7 linked regions of the Homo sapiens genome follow. The protein of the gene in region 1 purifies or fractionates together with the protein of each later gene. This does not show direct contact. Each region holds a gene or a part of one and is shown in the gene's direction. Other genes may lie near its edges.

Region 1 (3,500 bases):
GTGTGTATGGTGCAAGATAGGGATTGAGGTTTGTTTGTTTTTGTTTTTTTTTTTGCATGTGGATATCCAATTGGTCCAGAATCATTTGTTGAAAAGACTACTCTTTCTCCATTGAATTGCCTTGGCATATTTGTCCAAAATCAGTTGTCTCTTTATGTGTGGGTTTATTCCTCATGCCTCTTGTTTGACAGGCTCTGCCAGACCATGAGGATGAGATCCCGGAGACAGTGCGAACCGTACAGCTCATTAAAGATCTGGCCAGGGAGATCCGCCTGGTGGAAGTAAGGAGCATGGGGCAGGGAAGAAAAGGCATTTGGAAAGGCCTTGAGGCTCAAGTGGCAGGTTAGGCCTCTGCAGTTAGCATGAGAGCCCAGGGGAAGGGTCGGGAAGACCCTACCAAAGACCCAATTCATTCGTTCAAATAATTATTACTGTGTTTCAAGTGTGCCGCACATTGGGCTAGGCTCTTAAAATACGTAAATAGTGCCTGCCCACAAAGAACTCAGCCTAATAGAGGACCCTGAGCAAAGTTAACCTCTTTGAGTTTCAGTTTCCTCATCTCTAAAATGGGGATAATTGTACCTACTCGAGGATTGTTAAAAGGATTAAATAAGGTAATGTGGGTTGAGCACAAAAATAGAGTGCTTGGCACACAGTAGGTGCACAGTAAATTCTGACGGTGGGTCGTGGTGGTGGGTGGTGGTGGTAGTTGTAGTTGTTGTTATTATTAATATTTTGACTCAGTCTCTGCATTCTGCAAAATGACAGTTCTCTCGGGGTGAAGATGATTACAAAGCCATGTTTCAACAGGTGGCATATACCACGAGGCAGTAAGGTATAGTGGTAAGAGATTCAGAGAAACCTGGGTTCTGGTTCCTGCTCTGTCACTTGCAAGCCTTTCAGAGCCTCAGTTTCCTCATCTGTAAAGTGAGGATAACATCAACCTTTCAGGATTTTGTTAGGATCAAAAGCTAATATATGTAGAGCCCCTCGCACAGTGCCTGGCAGAGTAAGTACTCAATAAATGTGAGCCATTGTTATTAGTAGACTTTAATAGCAAAGAGAGAAGTTGGTGTGGGATGGTGAAGTAGCAGAGGCACCAGAGGAGAATTCCTTTAAGCTCAGAAGCTGTAAAGTTTTATTTAGTGCCCAGGATATATACATCCATGCTGAAGGGTGGTCAAAGTGAGCTGGGAAGTTGTGCTTCTAGCCTCAATGCTTGCAGCATGTTTCACTGCCTACACCATAGCTTACAGTGTCCACCTCCTACCTCTCATTTTCCTCCAGTCCCATCTGTCAAAATCATTCAGGATAGTTAAAGGCTTACCTTTTCTCCAGCGCCTCTCACTTAAACCACAAAACTTTGGGCTGGTTGGAAGAGGACTTAGAGATAGATTATATGTGGTCCATGGGCTTTCAAATGTTTTAAAGCAATGGAATCCTTTTTTTAAAATGACATCTTAGGTGGAAGCCCAATATTCAAAGCATAACTGCTTTGAATAAGATGAAGGTGGGAGGCCCAGGGCTCCACTTGTTCTTCTCATTCGCCTTCTACCTTCCCCCGATTCTCGGGGCTCCTCCCAAGAAGCTCAAAGGAGCCACAGAACATCTTCAAAAATCACCTTTCCAGTCTAGTCCTTTAATTTTACAGCTAAGCAAACAGTCTCAAATGGTCAGATAACTTTCCTGAGCTAGTTACAGAGCTAGCTAGCAGCAGAATTAGGACTAGAACCTCTCCTTCTCTCAAATCCTGTAGTCCTTAGAATTTGAACCACACAGATTAGTACTTGATTATTTTCTGTCTCATGTCAGCTACTTAATGGAGTATTTTCTCTCCAGTTTTGACAGTAGTGCTTTGCTCGTCTTCTTACTTGTCAATGGCTGGGTAAAGAAATGCCACCCAATAAATTCTTGATGACTCATTATGTAAAAGCTAGGGTGTGCATATGTGGAGCATCTATAAGCCACTTCCATGGCAGTACCACCAGTACCAGGAACAGACCTCTGCTGTTAGTGTTGAGAGAACCCTTGAGTAAGCTCTAACCCCCTCATGTACTAACACTCTTGTAGGACATCTTCCAACAGAACGTTGGGAAGACGAGCAATATCTTTGGGCTGCAGAGGATCTTCCCAGCCGGCTCCATTCCCCTAACCAGGCCAGCCCATTCCACTTCAGTGTCCATGTCCAGGCTGTCACTGCCCTCCAAAAATGGTTCAAAGAAGAAAGGCCTGAAGCCCAAGGAACTCTTCAAGAAGGCAGAGCGAAAGGGCAAGGAGAGTTCAGCCTTGGGGCCTGCTGGCCAGTTGAGCTATAATCTCATGGACACATACAGTCATCAGGCACTGAAGACAGGCTCTTTCCAGAAAGCAAAGGTGGGTGCTGGCCCATGGGTTCAGCCCAACCCTTTTGGGTGTCCCTTGGAAGAGCAGGGTTTCAAAAAGCAGGCTATCCTGTCTGGCTGCCATGTCCCTTAGACCCCCTGCTGTTTGGCTACCAGTCCCACTCATTTAATAGGCATTTATTGAGACCTTTTCTATGCCGGGCACTGTGATAGGTGCTGTGGATGTGACTCTCAAGAGGCTGACAGGCGAGTGAGAAAGACAGGCATAAAAACAAATGAGTGCAATCAAGTATTGTGAATGCCACAATCAGGGGTGTGTGTGGGACCCTGAGATACAGAGGAGGGTTGATTCTGTCTGGGTAGGGAAGATTTTCAGGAGCTCTTTTCAGAAAACATAACACTTAGCTGAATTTTGAAATGCTGGGACGGGAATGAGATTTGAAAACATTGCGTGTGTCAGGTTGTAGTCTTGAGCAGGTCCTTGAGAAAAGCCCTCCACCAGGGCTCCATCTTGCCTCAAGATTGTGATTCTCTCCATGGGCATCTGAAGATGTGCCCCCTCTTTTTTAAGGGAACATGGTTCACAAGATTGACAGGTGTCCCCTGAACCAACCACACATTTTCAACCTCCTGCTCCTGTGATCAGTGGGGGTATGGGGGGACAGTATAGCAGAAGGCCTTGGCTCAGGTGGTTTTGACAGTGAACTGAACCAGTGAAACCAGAGGGAACTTGCCATCGTGATTCCCATGGGAGTCCCAGACAGGTAACGGCTGAGTCTCCTACTTCTACAGTTCAACATCACTGGTGCCTGCTTGAATGACTCAGATGACGACTCACCAGACTTGGACCTTGATGGAAATGAGAGCCCATTGGCCCTATTGATGTCTAACGGCAGGTGAGGTGGGAAGGAGGAGCACAGAGGTACTGGGACTGTCAGTGGTAATATGCCACTGAGACAGGGCATGGAATTGGAATCTAGGGGTTGGGACATGGGTAGGAGGGACTGTACTTAGGGCAATACCTAGATATTATAATGTATTGTTGCTTAGTTCAGAGAACCATGGTGTGGTGTTGGAGGTGGGTAGAGTGAGAGGTCTGAAATCGAATTGGCAAGCCTGAGAAAGATTTTATCAGTTCTAGAAACTTCAGCAAGTCAT
Region 2 (3,500 bases), on another chromosome or scaffold:
GGAAAGTGTTGTCCGCAGGGCGAGCAGAAGGCTTGCCAAGAAGACTGCCGAAGAGCCAGCTGCCTCTGGCCGCATCATCTGTGAGTCTGGGGGCTTGGCAGTGGCGGGTGGTCCTTGGTGCCAGGCTCAGATGGAGGCTTTCTGAGGGATCATCTAGCAAGGAGCTGTCCAGAGAGCTTTCTGCAGTGAGGTAGATGTTACACATCTGTGCTGTCCTGGGATGGTGGCCGCTAGCTGGCCTCATCTGGCGATTGTGTCCTCAAAATGTGGCTAGTGTGATTGAGGAACTGAATTTTAAATTGTATTGCATTCTACTTCTTTTAGATTTAAATAGTTACATGTAGCTAGTGGCTTCCACGTTGGATGGTGCAGGTCTGACCCAACCTACTTGCTTTACAAGTGAGGAAACTGAGCTTCGGGAAGGTCGGCCACTGTGTGGCTGTGGTTACTGGCCATGTTGAGGCTGGAGCCTGGGCCTCTTCCGCAGGGCCAGCTCATTCCTCCCAACCCTATGCTGCAGAGGCCACTTAAATTCACCGGGTTTGCGCGCCGCCTATTGGCGACACTGTGTTTGATCTGGAGGAGGGAATTATGGCAGCAGGCTCCTTCGGGGAGATCAGATGACTGGGCATCTGATGGGAGCCAGGAGGGGGAACCAAGCTGACTCTGGAGCTGGCCGGCCTGGGTCTGAGTGCCAACTCAGCCATTCACCCACCCTGCAGCCTGGGGCAGGTCCTGGAAACTTCACGGGCCTCCACTCCTTGCCTGTCAACTGGGGCTAATCGCGTCACTTCAAAGGGTCGTTGTGAGGTTTTCTTTGGTCACCCCACACAGGGAGTTTAGAAGGGTGCCTGGCATATAGGAAGGACTCGGTAATGTTAGCTGCTCTCTCAGATCTCAGCTTAGGGGGCCATTGCCCACTGGAGCAGGTGTCTGGAGGGGCAGGCTGGCTGCATGAGGAGGTGAATCTGAGCTGGGAGGGTTCTGAAGGATGGCTGCGCTTTTGCTGAGTGGAAAAAAAATGCGGGGATATGTGTTATTGGCAGAGGGAACAGCTTGTACGAAGACCCTGATGCCTAAAGCAACAAGTGATGGGTGTCTGGGGCTCATGCTCACACAAGAGCTTGAACTTGACCCCACTGAAGCAAAAGAAGTGGCTTGATGATGGGAAAGTGAGGGAAACAGGGAGACCAGATAGGAGGCTGCTGTAAGGATGCAGGCAGAGGACGGGCAAAGCAGCGGATTGGTGGCGAGGATAGGCCAGGATTTATCTTTTTTTTTTTTTGATACAGAGTCTCGCTCTGTTGCCCAGGCTGGAGTGCAATGGCACGATCTCGGCTCACTGCAACCTCTGCATGCATCTCAGGTTCAAGCAATTCTCCTGCCTCAGTCTCCCGAGTAGCAGGGATTACAAGCGCCCGCCATCACACCAGGCTAATTTTTGTGTTTTTGTTTTTTAGTAGAGATGGGGTTTCACCATGTTGGCCAGGCTGGTTTCGAACTCCTGACCTCAAGTGATTCACCCGCCTTAGCCTCCCAAAGTGCCGGGATTACAAGTGTGAGCTACTGCGCCCAGCCCAGGTTTTATCTCAACGCATGTTAAATAGTAGCTGGCATCTGCCTGGCACTTTAAGATTTATAAAATGAAAGGTTATTTCATTTGGTCCTTACAGCAGCATTGTTAGCTTGTGAGGAATTTTTCACTTTACAGAGGAGGAAACTGAGGCTTAAGGAGGCCATGGAGTCTGTAAATCGGGAAGCTGGGGCTTGAGCGCTGTGTGTTTCATTCTGTCCAGAAAGTCAGGTGCTTGCAGAAGAGGCTTTGTGCAAGGCCGCAGGGCAGGGCCTGTCAGGCAGGGGAGGGCACCTCACCTTGGCAGCTTTCTCTCTGCCTGAGTCACACTGCCTGGGGACGGGCCTGCTCCAGGGTTTGGGGTGACATACTCTGGGGCGTGTGCAGATGTGCAGTCTGCCACACTGTCTATTTCTGGATTCTCAGAAGGATCTAAATGGTTCTGATCTGTTTTGGAGATTTTCTCAGGCCTGGATCTGATCTTGGGAAGGGGCTTCAAGCGGGGGCAGGTGAGCCTGGGCCTGTAGAGGGAGGGCCAGGCAGGGTTGCAGAGAATCTCTGGAGACCTTTGGAGCAGACATCCAGATCTGCAGCTCTCATGCCCTTCCATCACTCTTCCCTCTCTGTCTACCCTTTCCCTGCCCATGAATGGGCTTCTGATTTGACTGGTGCATGTTACCTGGGTCTGTCTGACTCCCAGCCCAGCATCATCTCTCCTCTTGAGGGGGTGGAGGAGAGAGAGGAGGATACAGGATCTAGGATCTGGAGTCACACAGACCCTGGGTGACCTTGGGCACACCCCTTCTCTCAACCTCAGCTTTTCTGTGAAATGGTGATAACACTTGCTTTGAATGTGAATAGATAACTCATCTTAGTGCTTGAGTGTAGTGGATACTCAGTACATCTTATTTGAGAAAACTCACCAATGGCTGATGCTCAGTTTGGGTGCGACAAGGCCGACCCCTAGTGAGGAGCTGCAAGGGTGTCAGGGAGTGGGGCGGTGACAGGGGAGGAGGCTTCCTGGGGGTCTTCCTGATACCAGGCTCTGGGAGAGGCTCTCGGGCAGCTCCAAGGTGGGGTCTTGGTTTGGGTGTTCCCCACGAGCAGCCCTTGACACAAGGATTTGAGTTCAATTTGTTAATTTTTGGGAAATTAACAAATTTAATTTCCCAAAAATTAAATTCGGGATGGGAAGGAAACACCTGCACCAGAGGAATGGAAAAATGAGATAGGAAAAAAAGCCAGCAGTCAGCGTGGGTGGAGGGGGCTTCTGGAAGCCAGAGTGTGGCCCCGGGGCGTGGAACTGCTGTGTGTCAGCAGGAATCCCCTGCCTCCTGGCCTGGTGCGCACGTGCCTGCGGGGCCCATCGGGCAGCAGTTCTGAAGTGGATAGGAAGGGACAGGCCCACTGCCTCAGGACTCCACCTTGGGGCGTTCGAGCCACCTCTGCATTGGAGAACAGTCCTTCCATCCCTCTGCCAGTGCTTAGGCCACTTCCCTACCACCAGACCAGCTCTGAGGCCTGAATGTCGTGCAGATGGCACTTAGCATTCCAGAGAATGCTTGTGCTGGTGGGAGAGCCATGTAGTCACATGGGCGTCTTCATCAGGGAGCACGTGAGCTGGGATGACACAGCATGGGGAGATGAGGAGGATGTATCTTCTGGGTATAAACCCCTTAAATGGGGGTCATCACCACCCATGACTGTCAGCCCGGCGCTGCAGCTGCTCCCACCACCTCCCCAAACCTGGCTGCTATACCCAGGAAGGGTCCTGGCTTCCCTTCTCTGTGCCTGGCCTGCTGTCTTCCCTCTTTTCCTGAGACCCTGTGCACCCCAACCTCCCGCTGGCCACCTCCCAGCCTGAACTCTGACCAAGCCCCCATGGCTCAGGATGCGCCAGCTCAGCTACCTTCTCTCTGTTCCCCAA
Region 3 (3,500 bases), on another chromosome or scaffold:
TAATCCCAGCTACTCAGGAGGCTGAGGCAGGAGAATCACTTGAACCCAGGAGGCAGAGGTTGCAGTGAGCTGAGATCGTGCCATCGCACTCTAGCCTGGGTGACAAGCGTGAAACTCCGTCTCAAAAAAAAAAATCTAATTTTAAATTGGAATATTGTGTTTATCTGTGTACTATTAGGAAGGTCTTTTATCACTTGCCTATAACTTCTACATTCTTAGGAACTTTTAGATTTTCTGGCTTTTTTTTTGTTTTTGTGGGTTTTTTTTGTTGTTTTTTGAGACGGAGTCTCGCTCTGTCTCCCAGTCTGGAGTGCAGTGGCACGATCTCGGCTCACTGCAAGCTCTGCCTTCCGGGTTCACGTCATTCTCCTTCCTCAGCCTCCTGAGTAGCTGGGACTACAGGCGCCCGCCACCACGCCCAGCTAATTTTTTGTATTTTTTAGTAGAGACGGGGTTTCACTGTGTTAGCCGGGATGGTCTCAATCTCCTGACCTCGTAATCCACCCACCTCGGCCTCCCAAAGTGCTGGGATTACAGGCATGAGCCACTGCGCCCGGCCAGAACTTTTAGATTTTCTCATTTCCCAGTTGCATGTTAGGTAGGATTATTTTAATTTAGCTTTACAAAGTTACATATTTAAATTACGCTAAAATGCAGCTGTCTGCACTCACTGGATTTAAATAGTGTAGCTGATTTTTGTAGCATTACTTTAGTGAGTTAGTACCTACGGGCCAAAGCCTTAAGTGTTAGAAAGGCTAGAGTCTAGCCACAAGTCGAATTGTCAAAGAAAAGCCAAGTATTATACTTCTTTATCTGTCTTTCTGTATCATTTCCTTATTAGGAAAAACTGAGCTGATCCTTCTTAACTAGCTATGTCAAGAGTTTCTCACTTTCTTATGTGAGATAGTTCATCTTCTGTTTTAAGATCAAGAAAGAATCAAGTTAACTAGCGTTCTCTACCATTTCTTAAATGAATGTTATTCCAGTTTCCAGAGGGCAGCGTCTTTTGTTCAGATATTACTGGGCCTTGTGGGAAGGTAATGTGACTTTCCTCTTAGGGAAGGCAGGAGCTAGGGAAAGGAAGGGTAGTAATTTCTTTTCTTTTCTTTTTTTTTTTTTTTTTTTTTAAGATGGAGTCTCACTCTGTAGCCCAGGCTGGAGTGCAGTGGCGTGATGTCGGTTCACTGCAAGCTCCGCCTCCCGGTTTCACACCATTCTCCTGCCTCAGCCTCCCGAGTAGCTGGGACTACAGGCTCCCGCCACCACGCCCAGCTAATTTTTTTGTATTTTTTAGTAGAGACGGGGTTTCACTGTGTTAGCCGGGATGGTCTCAATCTCCTGACCTCGTGATCCACCCACCTCGGCCTCCCAAAGTGCTGGGATTACAGGCGTGAGCCACTGCACCTGGCCAATTTCTTCTTTCTTTTGAAGAATGGGGTCAGTCTGCCTTTATTTGCACAGGGTTGTGGGTAGATTTTCCAGTAAAAAGTAAATAACTGGTAATGAAAATTAGGACTTTTTCATGGTGAGAGATTTTCTTTGCAATATACGCTTATTTTGCTATCTGTTATTTGTGTTTGTACAGATAAACATGATGCTGGCAAACCTGTACAAGAAGGCTGGTCAGGAGCGCCCTTCAGTCACCAGCTATAAGGAGGTGCTGAGGCAGTGCCCATTAGCCCTTGATGCCATTCTAGGTAGAGATATTTCCTGCCTGTTTTCATGGCATGTTTACTGTCAAAGATAGTAGTTCTCAATCTTGCCTGTACATTAGAATAACTTTATTTTTTTTAAAAGTTCCCCTGAAGAGAGTGATTTAGTAGGATTCCTGTTGTCACATATTCAATCAAGAAATACTTAATTATGGTTTTTGGCCGGGCATGGTGGCTTACACCTGTAATTCTAGCACCTTGGGAGGCTGAGGTGGGTGGATTGCCTGAGCTCAGCAGGTCGAGACCAGCCTGGGCAACATGGCACAACCCCGTCTCTACTAAAAATACAAAAATTAGCCAGGCATGGTGGCGCGTGCCTGTAGTCCCAGCTTCTCGGAAGGCTGGGGCATGAGTATCGCTTGAACCCAGGAGGCAGAGGTTGCAGTGAGCTGAGATTGTGCCACTGCATTCCAGCCCAGGGGGACAGAACAAGACACTGTCTCAAAAAGAAAAGAAATACTAAATTATGGTTTTTCTCTCATGCATCGCTCAGAATAGGGAAGCAGTTGCCTTTTAGCCAAGGGAAGATGTAGCCCGTTGCTCCTTGCATGTGGAAGAGAGATATCGTGCCTTACTTTCTTTCTTCTGCTTTCTGTTGGTTTAGGCTTGTTGTCCCTTTCTGTAAAAGGGGCAGAGGTGGCATCCATGACAATGAATGTGATCCAAACCGTGCCTAACTTGGACTGGCTCTCTGTGTGGATCAAAGCGTATGCTTTTGTGCACACTGGTGACAACTCAAGAGCAATCAGTACCATCTGGTGAGAGCCACAAAGTTAATTCAGTGTTCTTGAGGCCCTTTGCTTGTCTGGAAGTCTGATGTATCTGAAGTAGCAAAAAGAAAAATGAGATGCTTTGCTGTTGGTGCTGCAGCCAGTCTCTGGGATGTGTTAGTCTTTTATACTGAATGGTCCCAAATGTAATCATGTAATCATCTCTGTTGGAGACCTGTAAAAATAGAAATCTGACTGAGTTTAGCTCTGTGCCTGCACAGGTAGTAACCCTTGCAAAGCAAAGCAGGCTACCTTGGTGTGTCATTTTTTTTTTTTTTTTTGAGACAAGGTCGGTCTCTCTCTCTCTCTCTCTCTCTCTCTCTCTCTCTCTCTCTCTCTCTCTGTCTCTCTCTCTCTCTGTCTCTCTCTCTCTGTCTCTCTCTCTCTCTGCCTCTCTCTCTCTCTCTGTCTCTCTGTCTCTCTCTCTCTCTCTCTCTCTGTCTCTCTCTCTCTCTCTCTCTCTCTCTCTCTGTCTCTCTGTCTCTCTGTCTCTCTCTCTCTCTCTCTCTCTCCCAGGCTAGAGTGCAGTGGCGCAGTCACAGCTCAGTGTAGCCTTGACCTGTCAATCTCCCGGGCTCAAACCATCCTCCTGCTCAGCCTCCTGAGTATCTGGGACTACAGGCGCATGCCACCACACCCAGCTAATTTTTGTATGTTTTTGTAGAGATGGGATTTCACCATGTTGCCCAAGCTGGTCTTGAATTCCTGGGCTCAAGTGATTCTCCCACGTGGGCCTCCCAAAGTGCTGGGATTATAGACGTGAGCCACCATGCCTGGCCTTGGTGTATCATTCTTCAGCCTGGAAGAAAATCATTTTGCACTCACCAGAAGCTTGGTTTATTGCAGTGTCTAACCTAGCTTGCCTGCTTAGGACTAGGGATTTTCTTTATATTCAGATAAAGTTCAAGGACAAGAAGAGACTTGGGCTTGTGTTATGCAAAGTCGTTTACTTGAGTAATAAATAGGTGTCACTTGTGAATGACATTACCTTTAACACCATGTAGCGTATGTTGTGTTC
Region 4 (3,500 bases), on another chromosome or scaffold:
TTAGAAGCTGGCTCTGGCTGCCATGTAGAGAATGACTAAGAGGGTGGGAATGAAGACACGGAGGCCCACGAGGAGCCAGGGTGGAAATCCAGCGGAGAGAGAGTGGTGGCCTGGCCGGGGAAGGGACCATGGCACAGGGCGAGGTGGGCAGATCTGAGATGGAGATGGCAGAATTAGGTGGACTTGGTGACTGCTTGAAGGGGACAGTGAGTGAGATGGACGGGGCCCGGTGATGCCCAGGGTTCTGTTGGGGACAACTGGGAAGAGGGGGCACCTCCACTTGAGGCGGGAACACAGGAAACAGAGCATATTTGGGGAGAGGAATGGGGCCGGCTGGGTCATGCTGAAATGAGGTGGCCAGGACAGCCGAGGGCAGCGGGGAGGTGGACGTAGGCATATGGGAGGGAACTGGGGCTGGGGGTTCCCCTAGGAGCTCGTGAGAGCAAAGATGGGTCTGGGACTGCCGGAAAATGAGAATATCTGGGGAGAGAGTAGGGAGGTGACATTGGGAAGGGGGCCTGGGACAGAGATTCTCAGCCCTGGCTGCAAACTAGAATCTCCCAGAGAGCTTTTAAAACATCCCCAGGCCAGGACCCCTCCCCAGACCAAATAAGTTGGATTATTGTGGTCAGAGCATCAGTATATTAAGTTCCCAGGTGAATAAAAGTGGGCATCCCGTATTGAGAACTTTCCAATTGGAGCCATGGTTCTGGATGAGCTGTAGCAGCATCACCTGGGGACTTATCAGAAATATGAATTCTCAGGCCGGGCGCGGTGGCTCACGCCTGTAATCCCAGCACTTTGGGAGGCCAAGGCGGGCGGATCACAAGGTCAGGAGATCGAGACCATCCTGGCTAACACGGTGAAACCCCATCTCTACTAAAAATACAAAAAATTAGCCGGGCACGGTGCTGGGCACCTGTAGTCCCGGCTACTCGAGAGGCTGAGGCAGGAGAATGGTGTGAATCCAGGAGGCGGAGCTTGCAGTGAGTCCGGATAGCGCCACTGCACTCCAGCCTGGGCGACAGAGCAAGACTCCGTCTCAAAAAAAAAAAAAAAAAAAAGAAAAGAAAGAAATATGAATTCTCAGGGCCACCCGGACCTGCTGGATCTGATGTGCAGGTGGGCCCTGCATGCCTGCCTGCCTCCCACAGGCCCCAGGTGATGCTCGCAGATACTACTGTGCTAGAACGGAACTCTGAGGGGCACAAGGCCAAAGAAAGGTGGCTCATGCCTGTAATCCCAGCACTTTGGGAGGCCGAGGCTGGCGGATCACCTGAGGTCAGGAGTTCGAGACCAGCCTTGCCAACATGGCGAAACCCCATCTCTACTAAAAATATAAAAATTAGCCTGGCATGGTGGCAGGCACCTGTCATTCCAGCTACTCAGGAAGCTGAGGCATGAAAATCGCTTGAACCCAGGAGGCTGCTGTGAGCCGAGATCACGCACTCCAACCTGGGTGACAGAGTGAGACTTGGTCTCAAAAAAAAAAAAAAGGAAAGAAAGGGATTCTGCCAAGGTGCCTCGGAGAGGAAGGAGGAAAAGCAGAGAGAATGATGTCAGGGAAAGGAGGGAGTTTGGCCCAGGTCTCCCTCCCTGCCCTTTCTTGTCCCTGGGAGGCAGCTCTGCCTGACTGTGGCCCTGGAGGCACTGGCTAGAGGAGAGTCAGGGTGATTGGCATTTCCTGGCCTCCTGACTCTGGGTTCTTCCCTGGCAGAGGCTGACGCAGGAGATCCAGAGCCGAGAGCGGGACAGGGCCACAGCATCCCACCTCTCCCAGGCCCTGCAGGCAGCGCTCCAGGTAAGCAGCTTGCCTTCAGCTTGCCCCTCTCCATGCATCACCCTTGTCCCTCTTCCAGCCCTATCCCCCACACCCAGCCTCCCCCACTGGTTGCCAGCCTGCTGTCCTTTCCTCCCTGCTCAGGACTATGAGCTCCAGGCAGACACCTACCGCTGCTCTTTGGAGCCCACCCTGGCAGTGTCAGCCCCCAAGAGACCCCGAGTGGCTCCCCTGCAAGAGAGCATCCAAGCCCAGGTGAGATGGGACCTTGCGGGGCTCAGTGGACCTTGACACCAGCTCTGTAGGGTCCAAGGCAGGAGCTGACTCTGCCCTTCCCCTCTCCCTCTGCCTTCTCCAGGAGAAGAACCTTGCAAAGGCCTATACTGAGGTTGCAGCAGCACAGCAGCAGCTGCTCCAGCAGCTGGAGTTTGCTAGAAAAATGCTGGAGAAGGTACACAGACAACACCTACAGCTTTCCCACAATAGCCAGGAATAACCAGGAATGCCCACTCCATTCCCAAAATGCCAGGCTGTCACCCTGGTAGTCTCCTTCCCTCCTCTCCCTCCTGCCTGCAGCCCCTGGGCAGCTCTGGCTGCTGGAGAGGGGAGCGGATTCCAGCCACCCAGTTTTCTCTCCAGCAGCTCTTACAGGCTGGTGTCCATCCCAGGGTTAGGCCCTGGAGATGGCATTCATGGCCACTGGGCATCCTCCAATGGGACAAGACCTCTAACCCCAGAGAGCAGAGAAAATCCCCTAGAGCTTCACCCTCAGCCACCTGGCTCTCCACCTTCGGCCTACACACCCTCAAGCCAGAACTTCTCCAGGACTCCTGGTGACTTGCCAGCTTTTCTGTTACCCTCGGCCACAGTCAGGGTCCCTGGATGGAAGGGGAAAAGGGAGAGGTTCTGGAGGGACAGGGAGAACCTGTCCTGTTTGCACTTTTTTTTTGTTTTTTGTTTTTTTTGAGACGGAGTCTCGCTCTATCACCAAGGCTGGAGTGCAGTGGCACAATCTCAGCTCACTGCAACCTCCGCCTCCCTGGTTCAAGCGATTCTCCTGCCTCGGCCTCCTGAGTAACTGGGATTACAGGCATGCGTCACCACGCCCAGCTAATTTTTTGGATTTTTAGTAGAGATGGGGTTTCACTATGTTGATCAGGCTGGTCTCGAACTCCTGACCTCAGGTGATCCGCCCACCTTGGCCTCCCAAAGTGTTGGGATTAAAGGCATCAGCCATTGCACCTGGCCCTTACTTGCACTTTCTAATGCAAACCAGGCCTGCGCACTGCCTTGGGTCCTAAAATCATTGCATTGACTGGGTCTTCTCAAAATCCTATATCCAAGCATCTTAGGTCTTCAGCTCCACCTCTGAGGACCCACTGGGGAGTCTCAGGAAACAGGGAGGGGTCTTTCATCTCAGGAAAAACATGGAGCTCCTATCTCTACCGCCCACCCCGTGCTCTACCCTTCTTCCTCTCTGCAGAAGGAGCTCAGTGAGGACATCCGAAGGACCCATGATGCAAAGCAGGGCTCCGAGAGCCCTGCCCAAGCAGGGAGAGAGTCAGAGGCCCTGAAGGCCCAGCTGGAAGAGGAGAGGAAGCGGGTGGCCCGGGTGCAGCATGAGCTGGAGGCGCAGAGGAGCCAACTGCTGCAGCTGAGGACCCAGCGGCCCTTGGAGAGGCTGGAGGAGAAGGAAGTGGTAGAGTTCTACCGGGACCCC
Region 5 (3,500 bases), on another chromosome or scaffold:
CCCAGCACTTTGGGAGGCTGAGGTGGGCAGATCACTTGACGTCAGGAGTTCGAGACCAGTCTAGCCAACATGGTGAAACCCCATCTTAACTAAAAATACAAAAATTAGGCTGGGTGCGGTGGCTCACGCCTGTAATCCCAGCACTTGGGAGGGCTGAGGCGGGCAGATCACGAGGTCAAGAGATCAAGACCATCCTGGCCAGCACCAACATGGTGAAACCCCATCTCTACTAAAAATACAAAAACTAGCTGGGCATAGTGGCACATGCCTGTAATCCCAGCTACTCGGGAGGCTGAGGCAGGAGTAATCGCTTGAACCGGGGAAGCAGAAGTAGCCATGAGCCGAGATCGTGCCACTGCACTCCAGCCTGGTGACAGAGCGAGACTGTCTCCAAAAAAAAAAAAAAATTAGCCATGCATGCTGGCAGGCGCCTGTAATCCCAGCTGCTCAGGAGCCTGAGGCAGGAGAATCACCTGAACCTGGGAGGTGGAGGTTGCGGTGAGCCGAAATTGTACCACTGCACTCCAGCCTGGGCGACAGAGCGAGACTTCGTCTCAAAAAAAAGAATTGGGGGTTGTGATATCAGCTCCCATGTGTCAAGTACCTATGTGTGCCAGGCTCTAGGCATAGCATGTTGACAATTCATTTTCTCATTGAATCCCCACAACCTCTCCCTTTTTTTTTTTTTTTTTTTTGAGATGGAGTCTCATTGTGTTACCCAGCCGGGAGTGCAGTGGTGCAATCTCGGCTCACTGCAACCTCCGCTTCCCGGGTTCATGTGATTCTCCTGCCTCAGCTTCCCAAGCAGCTGGGATTACAGGTGCACACTGCCACGCCTGGCTAATTTTCGTATTTTTAGTTGAGACAGGGTCTCACCATGTTGCCCAGGCTGGTCTCAAACCCCTGACCTCAAGTTATCAGCCCACTTTGGCCTCCCAAAGTACTGGGATTACAGGTGTGAGCCACTGCGCTTGCCCCACAACCTCCCTGTGATTCCCATTTTATAGATGAGGGCTTCAAGGCTTAGTGAGATGCAGGAACAAACTAAGGTTACCAGCCAGAGCTGGAGGGAGAGCAAGAAGAGAGGGCAGGGTTGAGGGAGGGGTTAGCTTTTCCAAGTAGATGAGGTTTGGGCATGTTCCACTGAAGGGAACGGGCCAGGTAGATGTGCCGGGAGAGAGGAATGCTTGCTGGCATGGCCTTTTTGGGGAGGTGGAGGAGTAGCTTCCAGATCTGATGCAGTTATACCCTTCGGTGGGGAGGCAGGGAGATGGGGGTGTTGTGCCTGAGTCCTCTTTTGACCCTGTTGCTGTAGGACTGTGAGAGGAAGAGTGGAGTAAGAACCTTGGAAAGTGGAGAAAAGTTGCTCCAGTCCAGGCGCGGTGGCTCACACATGTAATCCCAGCACTTTGGGAGGCCGAGGCAGGAGGATCTCTTGAGCCCAGAAGTTCGAGACCAGTCTGGCTAACAACAACAACAAAAAAAGCCAGGCATAGTGGCACATGCCTGTGGTCCCAGCTTCTGGGGAGGCTGAGTCGGGAGGATTGCTTGAGCCTAGGAGGTTGAGGAGGCTGCAGTAAACAGTGATTGTGCCGCTGCACTGTATCCTGGAGACAGAGCAAGCCTCTCGCCTGGGCCTCCCCATGCTGGAAGGCCTTGCCAGAGCTGGGGCCTGGGAGTGAGGGGAGAAGAGGCTGCTGGCTGGCTCCACAGGGTAAAGGTGTGGTGGAATGATGAGGACCTGGGGCTGTGCTGGGACAGGAGAGGGCAAAGTACGGGCCCTGGGGTCTGGGCAGGGTGGAGGAGGAAGTTGGGAAGAGGGTGATGTGCTAGAGGGAAACTGAAGGATGGGAAGTTGAAGGTGCAGTGGGGCAGACTGAATGGACAGTGGGGAATGTTGGAGAGGATGGGGAATCTCCAAGGCGGAGCCATTCTGGGATTGACAAGGCCAGGTGTGTGGCTGCTTGAGGGGAGCTGAGGGTGATTGAAGGGGATCACTGGAGATGCAAGAATCCAGGTAAACAGGCGTGATTGCCAAGTCCCCTGGGGAGGTGGCAGAGGTGGAAGAGGAGAGGAAGATGCAGGCAGCCCCTTGGTGTCTGGATAGTGAGAGGGCACGACAAGGGAGTCTGAGTTACCGAGGACAGAGGAGCCGTGGCTCAGAGCAAGGGGTGCTTAGTGAAGGCTCACTGTGTTTCTTCTCTTTTTTTTTTGAGATGGAGTCTCGCTTTGTCACCAGGCTGGAATGCAGTGGTGCCATCTCGACTTACTGCATCCTCAGCCTCCCAGGTTCAAGTGATTCTCCTGCCTCAGCCTCCCGAGTAGGTGGGACTAAGGCACGCGCCATCACGCCCGCTAATTTTTGTATTTTTAGTAGAGACGGGATTTCACCATGTTGGTCAGGATGGTCTCGATCTCTTGACCTCATGGTCCACCCGCCTCGGCCTCCCAAAGTGCTGGGATTACAGGCGTGAGCCCCCTCGCCCGGCCAGCTCACCGAGTTTCTAATAACCAGAACCAGTTTCAGTCACCACCGTCTTAGTGATTGCCGCCTGGGGATGTTAGTGATGGCCCTGGGGAGGGGCAGGTTATGCAGTAGGAACTGGCTTCTGGGGCCTCGCCCCATGGACCTGAGCGTGGCAGTAGAGCAGTTCTCAGAGGAAGGTGGTGGGAGTCATATTGACTGGGCAGGTGCCCCCAAAAGTTGTCTCCTAAATGAGAGGGATGGGCAGGTTCCCTTTGGGACAGTCGCAGAGGGAAGTGTGTGTGCAGCAGCTGTGCTGGTGGAGGAGTGTGTTCTTCGAGCGAGGCTTCCCGAGGACATGCATGCTGAAGCGTGAGGTGGTCTGTAGGGGGCGCTGCCCCAGCGTGGTGGGGAGGAAGGTGAGAGGAGGCCTGCATGCATCTGGGTCCTCACTGGCTTCCTGGAGTGGGTTGCTGCCACAGGCTGAGACCCCAGCGGGTGTCTAGAGCCTAAGGTGCAGCCAAGAGCCTGGCTCAGGGCGCCAGGGTTGGGAGTGCGGTGGACTCAGGTGAATCGCTGCCTCCTAGGGCCGGGCCTGGTGCCGGCGGCCCTGTTGGCGCTGAGCGGGGAAGCCAGTTGTGAAGCCAGTGAGTCCGTGGGCTGCAGTTCAGAGCATGAGCTCAACCCACATGGCCTGGGAGCAGAGCTTGTTCTGTCATCTGGTAACTGACCACATCTCTGTGCCTCAGTTTTCCTGTCTGTAAGATAGGACCCTCTGCTGGGTACAGTGGCTCACGCCTGTAACCCCAGCACTTTGGGAGGCCGAGGCGGGCAGATCACGAGGTCAAGAGATCGAGACCATCCTGGCCAACATGGTGAAACCCTGCTTCTACTAAAAATACAAAACTTAGCTGGGTGTGGTGGTGCATGCCTGTAGTCCCAGCTACTCGGGAGGCTGAGGCAGGAGAATCGCTTGAACCCGGGAGGCGGAGGTTGCAGTAAGCCGAGATTGCGCCACTGCACTCCCACCTGGCGA
Region 6 (4,103 bases), on another chromosome or scaffold:
GAAGTTCTCTAAAGATATGTGTCTCCTTATGGAATTTAACAGAAATCAGGGATTTGTATTCTAGCCATCAAGGGAATAACATTTTTCCAGGTCTTTAGACAAATAATGGAATACCTTGCAGTAATTAGATACACTATTGTAGAAAAGTATTGATGAAATGGAACGATGTTTGAGATATCATATTGAGTAGAAAAGGCAAGATACATTAAGTAGGAAATGTATCTTACAAAATAATTTGTCAGACACACTCCTATATTTGTATGTTATATAAATGCGTATGTGAAGAAAGGCTAGAGGATGAGACCACAGTCTTCGGTGAAGTTTAAGAGATGAGGCTGCAGCATGCTCAGAAAGGCCTGGGTTATAGTTCTTCCAGTAATTAAGGATGTGATCTTGGGTAAATTGTCCATCCTCTCTAAACTGCACCACCTTTTGTCTGTAAAACAGGAAGGATGGTATTTACCCCCAGGGTCATCAAAGGATTTGGTTGGAGAAAAATAAATAAATGGGCTGAGCCCAGACCTGGCACAGTGAGAGCACAGTGGTTGACTATTGTGCTGGCCTGTTGTTCCTGTGTTATTGACATGCTGCTGGTGGTGGTCCAGAAGCTATTACCTTAATTGGTTATGTGGATTTCCCCTCATACTGAGCAGCTGTGTGTGGTGTTGTAAAACATAGCCATACACAGTAACTGACAAGGGCAAATGTGATGGAAAAATGCAAGGAAGTGCAGATAAATAGCTAATGGGCTGTAGAAGGAAGCTAGTCCTTGGAGGGCTTGATCAAGGAAGGTCCTTTTGCATGTCACCTTTGAAGAAGAGGGGACATAGAAGAGGTATAGTGCATCCCGGAGTGTACCTGGAAGGGAACATGAAAAGAGGACATTTTTCTCTGGGACATGGGGACTCCACTTGCATGAACTCTGGAATTGGGGCAAAGAACCATCATGAGAACAAGGGCTTCCTTGAACCTCCCAGGCTCATTGGCTGATCTAAACCCTGTGTCCCCTCTTTCCTTCACTCTCCTCTGTTTTCTATACCTGTATTATTGGACTGGACTGGAAGCCACCTGATCTATCACAAGTACCTTGAAATGTGTTGAATAGGTGTGGCACAGTCCTTAGCAGAGTGGCACTACCCCCACAGGAATTTGTTTATACCGTTGGCATGGAAAATAGCAGGAAATGAGTGATCACTGATAACTGAGGATGCTATTTATTATTGGCCAAAGGAATACTTGTGTTGTATTTGCATAACCACTCACAAACTGTTGATTACAAATGAGTACCAGACCTAGCTCCTTCAAGTAAAGGATCCTGAGAACTGAAGGCAAACAGAGCTCCAGGAGTCCAAGACAGAGCCACAGACCACGAGGATCCCTGGCCCAGGTAGGTGGTCCTCCTGCACTGGCTTTCAAGGCCAACAGGATGGATGGGGAAGTAGAGTAGCATCTGGCCATCTAGACCCTTGCTTTTTATCCCCACTGGAAGCACATCTGAATTTCTAAATATGATCTCTGAGACCTGCCCAGAACACCTTGCTCTCAGCCCCAGTAGCAGCCTGCTCTCTCCCAGGAGGGCTTCCACTAACAAGTAGGGCATTGCTGGAGGGCCAGGCAGACACTAGCTTAGGAAATCCACCAACCCTGGAAATGCTAGTCCCTTCTCTGAAGGCTCAGAAGACTGACTTTAGAGTCTAGAAAATATTGGTCCTTGGGAACAGATTTTGAGTGCAAAGAGATGGACTTCAGATGGCCAGATGCACTGCTTCTTTAGGGAATTCTGTGAAAGCTCCCTGCATTTATCTTAATACAGGCAGCAGATTTCATGAGTACCCCCGAGGGATGGCCCCAGGTCCTCCAGCCTGTGAGCATCCTTCTGTCCTTCAGCAGCACCACAGTATCTTTATATGTCTTTGGATACCTACGTTTCTGCCAGACATCTCTTGCTCTGATGTTCTGGCTGCCAAATTCTCTGTCAAGCGCCTCCAATTTTTTGTGTCCTTTGATTTACCCCAACATGACAAAGGCAGTTGTGCTTCATGTATTCAGGGATACTGCCAAACCACAAACAGGTTAAAATCAAATAGCAGATATCCCTGTTCCTAAAGACCCATCAGCTCTACCCACCTGCTCCTGCTCACCGTCCTTATTGTTGAGTCCTGAAGCCCTTCCTTGTCATTTTTATTTTTTGCATGAACAATTTAGTTCCCTTTGTCTCACTCCTAAACCTTTCTCAAAGGATTGGATTTGTACACAAACTGCCTATCTCTGCAATCTTAGAAGTGATATGATTCTGAACAAATCACTTAACTTTTGATTTTTTATCGGTAAGATGGGAATACCAATTTTTGCTCCACTTCTGTCCTATGTTGGCCTGGGCTGATGTTGAAAGCTCTCGGTCAACTGAGATAGGGTGTGCAGAATTTATATATATAAATATATCTCCTCCAACCCCTCCCAATGAAGCAAGTCACGTGAGTCAATCCTACCCTAAGATATTAGGGATTGAGCCTCCTGGGACATTTGGTGGCTTAGGTTTTCATGAAAAGAGGTTGCAGAGCAACTGCTTTTTGTTAGGCAAAGATTAGGCTACTGCAGAGACTCAGCAAACTTCTATAGAAGGTGTCAGATGGTAAGTATTTTAGGCTTTGCTTGCCAGATGATCTCTCAACTAGTTAACCATGCTATTGTAGCCTCGAAGCAGCCAGAGACAATATGTAAACAAGAGCATGGCTGTGTTTCAATAAAACTTTATTTAAAAAAACAGTCAGGGACCGGATTTGGCCAAAGGCCATAGTGTGCCAGCCCCAAGACTAGAGCAATGCACTTTTAACTTTTTTATTTTATTTTTGTAAAATGCCAAGATCCACAAAAATGCTATTGCACCCCGTGTGTTAGCACTGTGACTCAAGGTTTGGGAAATTCTGCTTTGAAGGCGTGATAGACAGGAGAGCATGGTCTGGCCCCTTGGTGCCTTTCTGGTTGCAGCGAGCATTTCAAACTACAGAGCAAGGCCAGTGGTCTGTTCAGCACTAGAGACATGCAGCAAGGTGTCCTGGGGTGAGAAGATGCCATAACTGGTCCCCTTTCTATCTCCTTAGGTCTTGGACTTCATTCCATTTTCTGTTGAGTAATAAACTCAACGTTGAAAATGTCCTTTGTGGGGGAGAACTCAGGAGTGAAAATGGGCTCTGAGGACTGGGAAAAAGATGAACCCCAGTGCTGCTTAGAAGGTAAGGTTCTTGTAGAAATCTACCTCAGGGCCAAAGTGTAATTCCTAGAGCAGAACTTTGCTAGGTGCTGTGCACAGACCCAGTTGTTTCCTGCTGACTTGCACAGTAAGTGAGCTTTCAAATTTCCCTGGACAAATAACTAGACAAGAGAAATTCTGGAAGGGAAAAGGAAGCTTTGCTTCAGTGTCCAGGCACATCAGGTAGTAGATAAAAGGATCGTCCTCACCTACAGATTTGGGGCTTTAGCATCCTGTTTGCCAACTGGATGGTTGCATATGCTTCAAAATGCACCTCTTCCCTCCCAACATTCCCAAGTGGAAGAGAAGCCTCCGATGAGAAGCAGCTCTCTAAGGCTGGGCTGAACAAATGACCCAGGCACAGGGCATCTGAGTATTCCATGAGGAACACATTTGGGTGTTGCCCATGGGGGACAATAGGAGGAGGCTTTTGACCCAAATGATTGTCTACTGAGGTGTGACGGGAGAGGCCTGTGACATGCCAGAGGCCAAACCCGTGATCCAGTTCATCTCTATTCTATGTTTCTGAAGAGGGAAGCTATGATTTAATGTCATTACTATCATGCTGCTCTAGTATTTCTCAGCACATACACAGAAGAGGGAATTAAATGGTCTTTGATACCCCTAAATCCTTGGAAAATCCGAATTGCATATGCTAACCTCACTGCGTCTGACTGCAGACCCGGCTGGAAGCCCCCTGGAACCAGGCCCAAGCCTCCCCACCATGAATTTTGTTCACACAAGTAAGGCCTCGGGGTGAGGTGATGGGGGTGGCTGAGGTGCGAGGGTGGGGATGGGGGATGGAGCCATTGGGTCCTCTTACAGGGTGGGAGAATTGTAGAATGGGGACACC
Region 7 (2,543 bases), on another chromosome or scaffold:
AGTTGGGTTGTGTTGACGGCTAGGGATTGATTGGCCAAACTGAAAACAACACTAAGTGAGTAATTTTTTTTTTTGAGACAGACTTTCACTCTGTCACCCAGACTGGAGTGCAGTGGCACAATTACGGCTCACCACAGCCTCGATCTCCTGGGCTCAAGCAATCATCCTACCTCAGCCCCCCAAGTAGCTGAGATTACAGGTGCATGCCACCATGCTCGGCTAATTTAAAAAAAAATTTTGTAGAGGGCCTGTTGGCTCACACCTGTAATCCCAGCCTAGCAACATGGTGAGACCCCACCTCCATAAAAAATTTAAAAATTAGCCAGGCATGGTGACTGGTGCCTGTGGTCCCAGCTACTTGGAAGGCTGAGGTAGGAGAATGGCTCGAGCCCAGAAAATCAAGGCTGCAGTGAGCCATGATCGTGCCACTGCACTGCAACCTGGGTGACATAGTGACACCCTGTCTCAAAAAAAATTTTTTTTATTGGTAGAGATGGTGGTCTCCCTTTGTTGCCCAGGCAGGCTGGTCACCAACTCCTGGGTTCAAGTAAACTTCCCGCCTTGGCCTCCCAAAGTCTTGGAAGTACGGGGATGAGACACTGCACCCCACCATTTTTTTTTGTGATGGCATACACACCATAAAGAACTAAGATTGAAAAGGAATTGTTCATTTGAGTTTCTAAAGTTGGCCAGTATTGGCCAGGCATGGTGGCTCAAGGCCTGCAATCCCAGCACTTTGGGAGGCCAGGGCAGGTGGATCACCTGAGGTCAGGAATTCGAGACCAGCCTGGCCTACGTGGCGAAACCCCGTCTCTACTAAAAATACAAAAATTAGCTGGGCGCAGTGGCACGTGCCTGTAATCCCCGCTACTCAGGAGGCTGAGGCAAGAGAATCACCTGAACCCGGGAGACAGAGGTTGCAATAAGCTGAGATCATGCCACTGCACTCCAGCCTGGGCAACAGAGCAAGACTCCATCTTAAATAAATAAATAAATAAATAAATAAATAAATAAATAAAGTAAGTTGGCCAGTATAAAGATCACAAAAGTTAAAAAGTCAAAACAAAAATGCCCAACATGCAGGCACAGAGGTTCTTTAAGATCTCATATGCAGGCTTTGAAGTAAGCATTAAGAAAACTATATTGTTGGCCAGGCACAGTGGCTCACGCCTGTAATCCCAGCACTTTGGGAGGCCGAGGCAGGTAGATCACCTGAGGTCAGGAGTTCGAGACCAGCCTGGCCAACGTTATGAAACCCCGTCTCTACAAAAATGCAAAAATTAGCCGGGCGAGGTGGCATGCACCTGTAATCCCAGCTACTTAGGAGGTTGAGGCAGGAGAATCGCTTGAACCCAGTAGGCAGAGGTTGCGGTGAGCTGAGATCACACCACTGCACTCCAGCCTGGGCAACAGAGCGAGACTCCATCTCAAAAAAAAAGGAAAAAGAAAAAAAAAAAGAAATATTGTTGATAAGGCTAAATAGTTTCATAAATAGTACATTTTGTCAACTACTAAATAACTAGATGAGATGGCAGATTATCTATGGTACTCTTAATAATGTAAATAATTCTGTGATACAATCAGTGGATTTTAGAAAAGAAAAAATTTATATTAAATTTGCAGTTCAATAAAGTAAAATAATTTTATAACAAAACAAGATTTTGGATCGCTTGAGGGGGGTGAGGGGAGGGTCAGAGGTTGCAGTGAGCCGAGATTGTATCACTGCATCCCAGCCTGGGTGACAGAGTGAGACCCTGTCTCAAAAAAAAAAAAAATAGTATAAATATCTGTTAGCTTTATACAGTTGAAGAAATTCATAGAATATATTTAAGCTAAGAATGGGAAAGAGAGGGAAAAAATGTGTTTTTGAAACTTCAAACCATATATTTGAAAACATAATCAGATTTTAGTGTGACTGTTGTATTTATTTTATTTTATTTTATTTTATCATTTCATTTCATTTCATTTATTTCATTTTATTTTATTATTTTATTTTATTTTATTTTATTTTATTTTGAGATGGAGTCTCACTTGTTGCCCAGGCTGGAGTGCAGTGGCATGATCTTGGCTCACTGCAACCTCTGCCTCCTGGGTTCAAGTGATTCTCCTGCCTCAGCCTCCCGAGTAGCTGGGATTATAGGTGCACGCCACCACACCTGGCTAATTTTTGTATTTTTAGTAGAGATGGGGTTTCAGCATACTGGCCAGGCTGATCTCGAACTCTTGACCTCGTGATCCGCCTGCCTAGGCCTCCCAAAGTGCTGGGATTACAGGCATGAGCCACCGCGCCCGGCTTTTTTGTTTTTGTTTTTGTTTTCTGTGTGTGACAGAGTTTCGTTCTTGTTGCCCAGGCTGGAGTGCAATGACGCGATCTTGGCTCACTGCAACCTCCGCCTCCTGGCTTCAAGCGATTCTCGTGCCTCAGCCTGCAGAGTAGCTGGGATTACAGGCGTGCGCCACCACGCCCAGCTAATTTTGTATTTTTAGTAGAGACGGGGTTTCACCATATTAGTCAGGCTGGACTCAAACTCTTGATCTTAGGT

What was found.
Region 2: the proteins of PHF8 (region 1) and INCENP purify together in Homo sapiens (affinity purification with mass spectrometry; one large-scale study listed by BioGRID and IntAct). This does not show direct contact.
Region 3: the proteins of PHF8 (region 1) and ANAPC7 purify together in Homo sapiens (affinity purification with mass spectrometry, with the first as the bait; one study listed by BioGRID). This does not show direct contact.
Region 4: the proteins of PHF8 (region 1) and EVPL purify together in Homo sapiens (affinity purification with mass spectrometry; one large-scale study listed by BioGRID and IntAct). This does not show direct contact.
Region 5: the proteins of PHF8 (region 1) and SETD1A purify together in Homo sapiens (co-immunoprecipitation; one study listed by IntAct). This does not show direct contact.
Region 6: the proteins of PHF8 (region 1) and IL37 purify together in Homo sapiens (affinity purification with mass spectrometry; one large-scale study listed by BioGRID and IntAct). This does not show direct contact.
Region 7: the proteins of PHF8 (region 1) and CGAS purify together in Homo sapiens (affinity purification with mass spectrometry; one large-scale study listed by BioGRID and IntAct). This does not show direct contact.

The regions. Positions count from the first base shown.
Region 1 is NC_000023.11:53,992,474-53,995,973, reverse strand, and holds part of PHF8 (histone lysine demethylase PHF8), read left to right. Parts: intron 1-191; coding exon 192-281; intron 282-2,070; coding exon 2,071-2,373; intron 2,374-3,134; coding exon 3,135-3,238; intron 3,239-3,500. UniProt on the Homo sapiens protein: Histone lysine demethylase with selectivity for the di- and monomethyl states that plays a key role cell cycle progression, rDNA transcription and brain development.
Region 2 is NC_000011.10:62,130,511-62,134,010, forward strand, and holds part of INCENP (inner centromere protein), read left to right. Parts: coding exon 1-80; intron 81-3,500. UniProt on the Homo sapiens protein: Component of the chromosomal passenger complex (CPC), a complex that acts as a key regulator of mitosis.
Region 3 is NC_000012.12:110,386,709-110,390,208, reverse strand, and holds part of ANAPC7 (anaphase-promoting complex subunit 7), read left to right. Parts: intron 1-1,585; coding exon 1,586-1,697; intron 1,698-2,316; coding exon 2,317-2,470; intron 2,471-3,500. UniProt on the Homo sapiens protein: Component of the anaphase promoting complex/cyclosome (APC/C), a cell cycle-regulated E3 ubiquitin ligase that controls progression through mitosis and the G1 phase of the cell cycle.
Region 4 is NC_000017.11:76,010,307-76,013,806, reverse strand, and holds part of EVPL (envoplakin), read left to right. Parts: intron 1-1,717; coding exon 1,718-1,801; intron 1,802-1,924; coding exon 1,925-2,035; intron 2,036-2,138; coding exon 2,139-2,231; intron 2,232-3,263; coding exon 3,264-3,500. UniProt on the Homo sapiens protein: Component of the cornified envelope of keratinocytes. May link the cornified envelope to desmosomes and intermediate filaments.
Region 5 is NC_000016.10:30,974,754-30,978,253, forward strand, and holds part of SETD1A (histone-lysine N-methyltransferase SETD1A), read left to right. Parts: intron 1-3,500. UniProt on the Homo sapiens protein: Histone methyltransferase that catalyzes methyl group transfer from S-adenosyl-L-methionine to the epsilon-amino group of 'Lys-4' of histone H3 (H3K4) via a non-processive mechanism.
Region 6 is NC_000002.12:112,909,862-112,913,964, forward strand, and holds the start of IL37 (interleukin-37), read left to right. Parts: upstream 1-1,303; 5' UTR 1,304-1,387; intron 1,388-3,101; 5' UTR 3,102-3,151; coding exon 3,152-3,233; intron 3,234-3,930; coding exon 3,931-3,993; intron 3,994-4,103. UniProt on the Homo sapiens protein: Immune regulatory cytokine that acts as a suppressor of innate inflammatory and immune responses involved in curbing excessive inflammation.
Region 7 is NC_000006.12:73,425,755-73,428,297, reverse strand, and holds part of CGAS (cyclic GMP-AMP synthase), read left to right. Parts: intron 1-2,543. UniProt on the Homo sapiens protein: Nucleotidyltransferase that catalyzes the formation of cyclic GMP-AMP (2',3'-cGAMP) from ATP and GTP and plays a key role in innate immunity.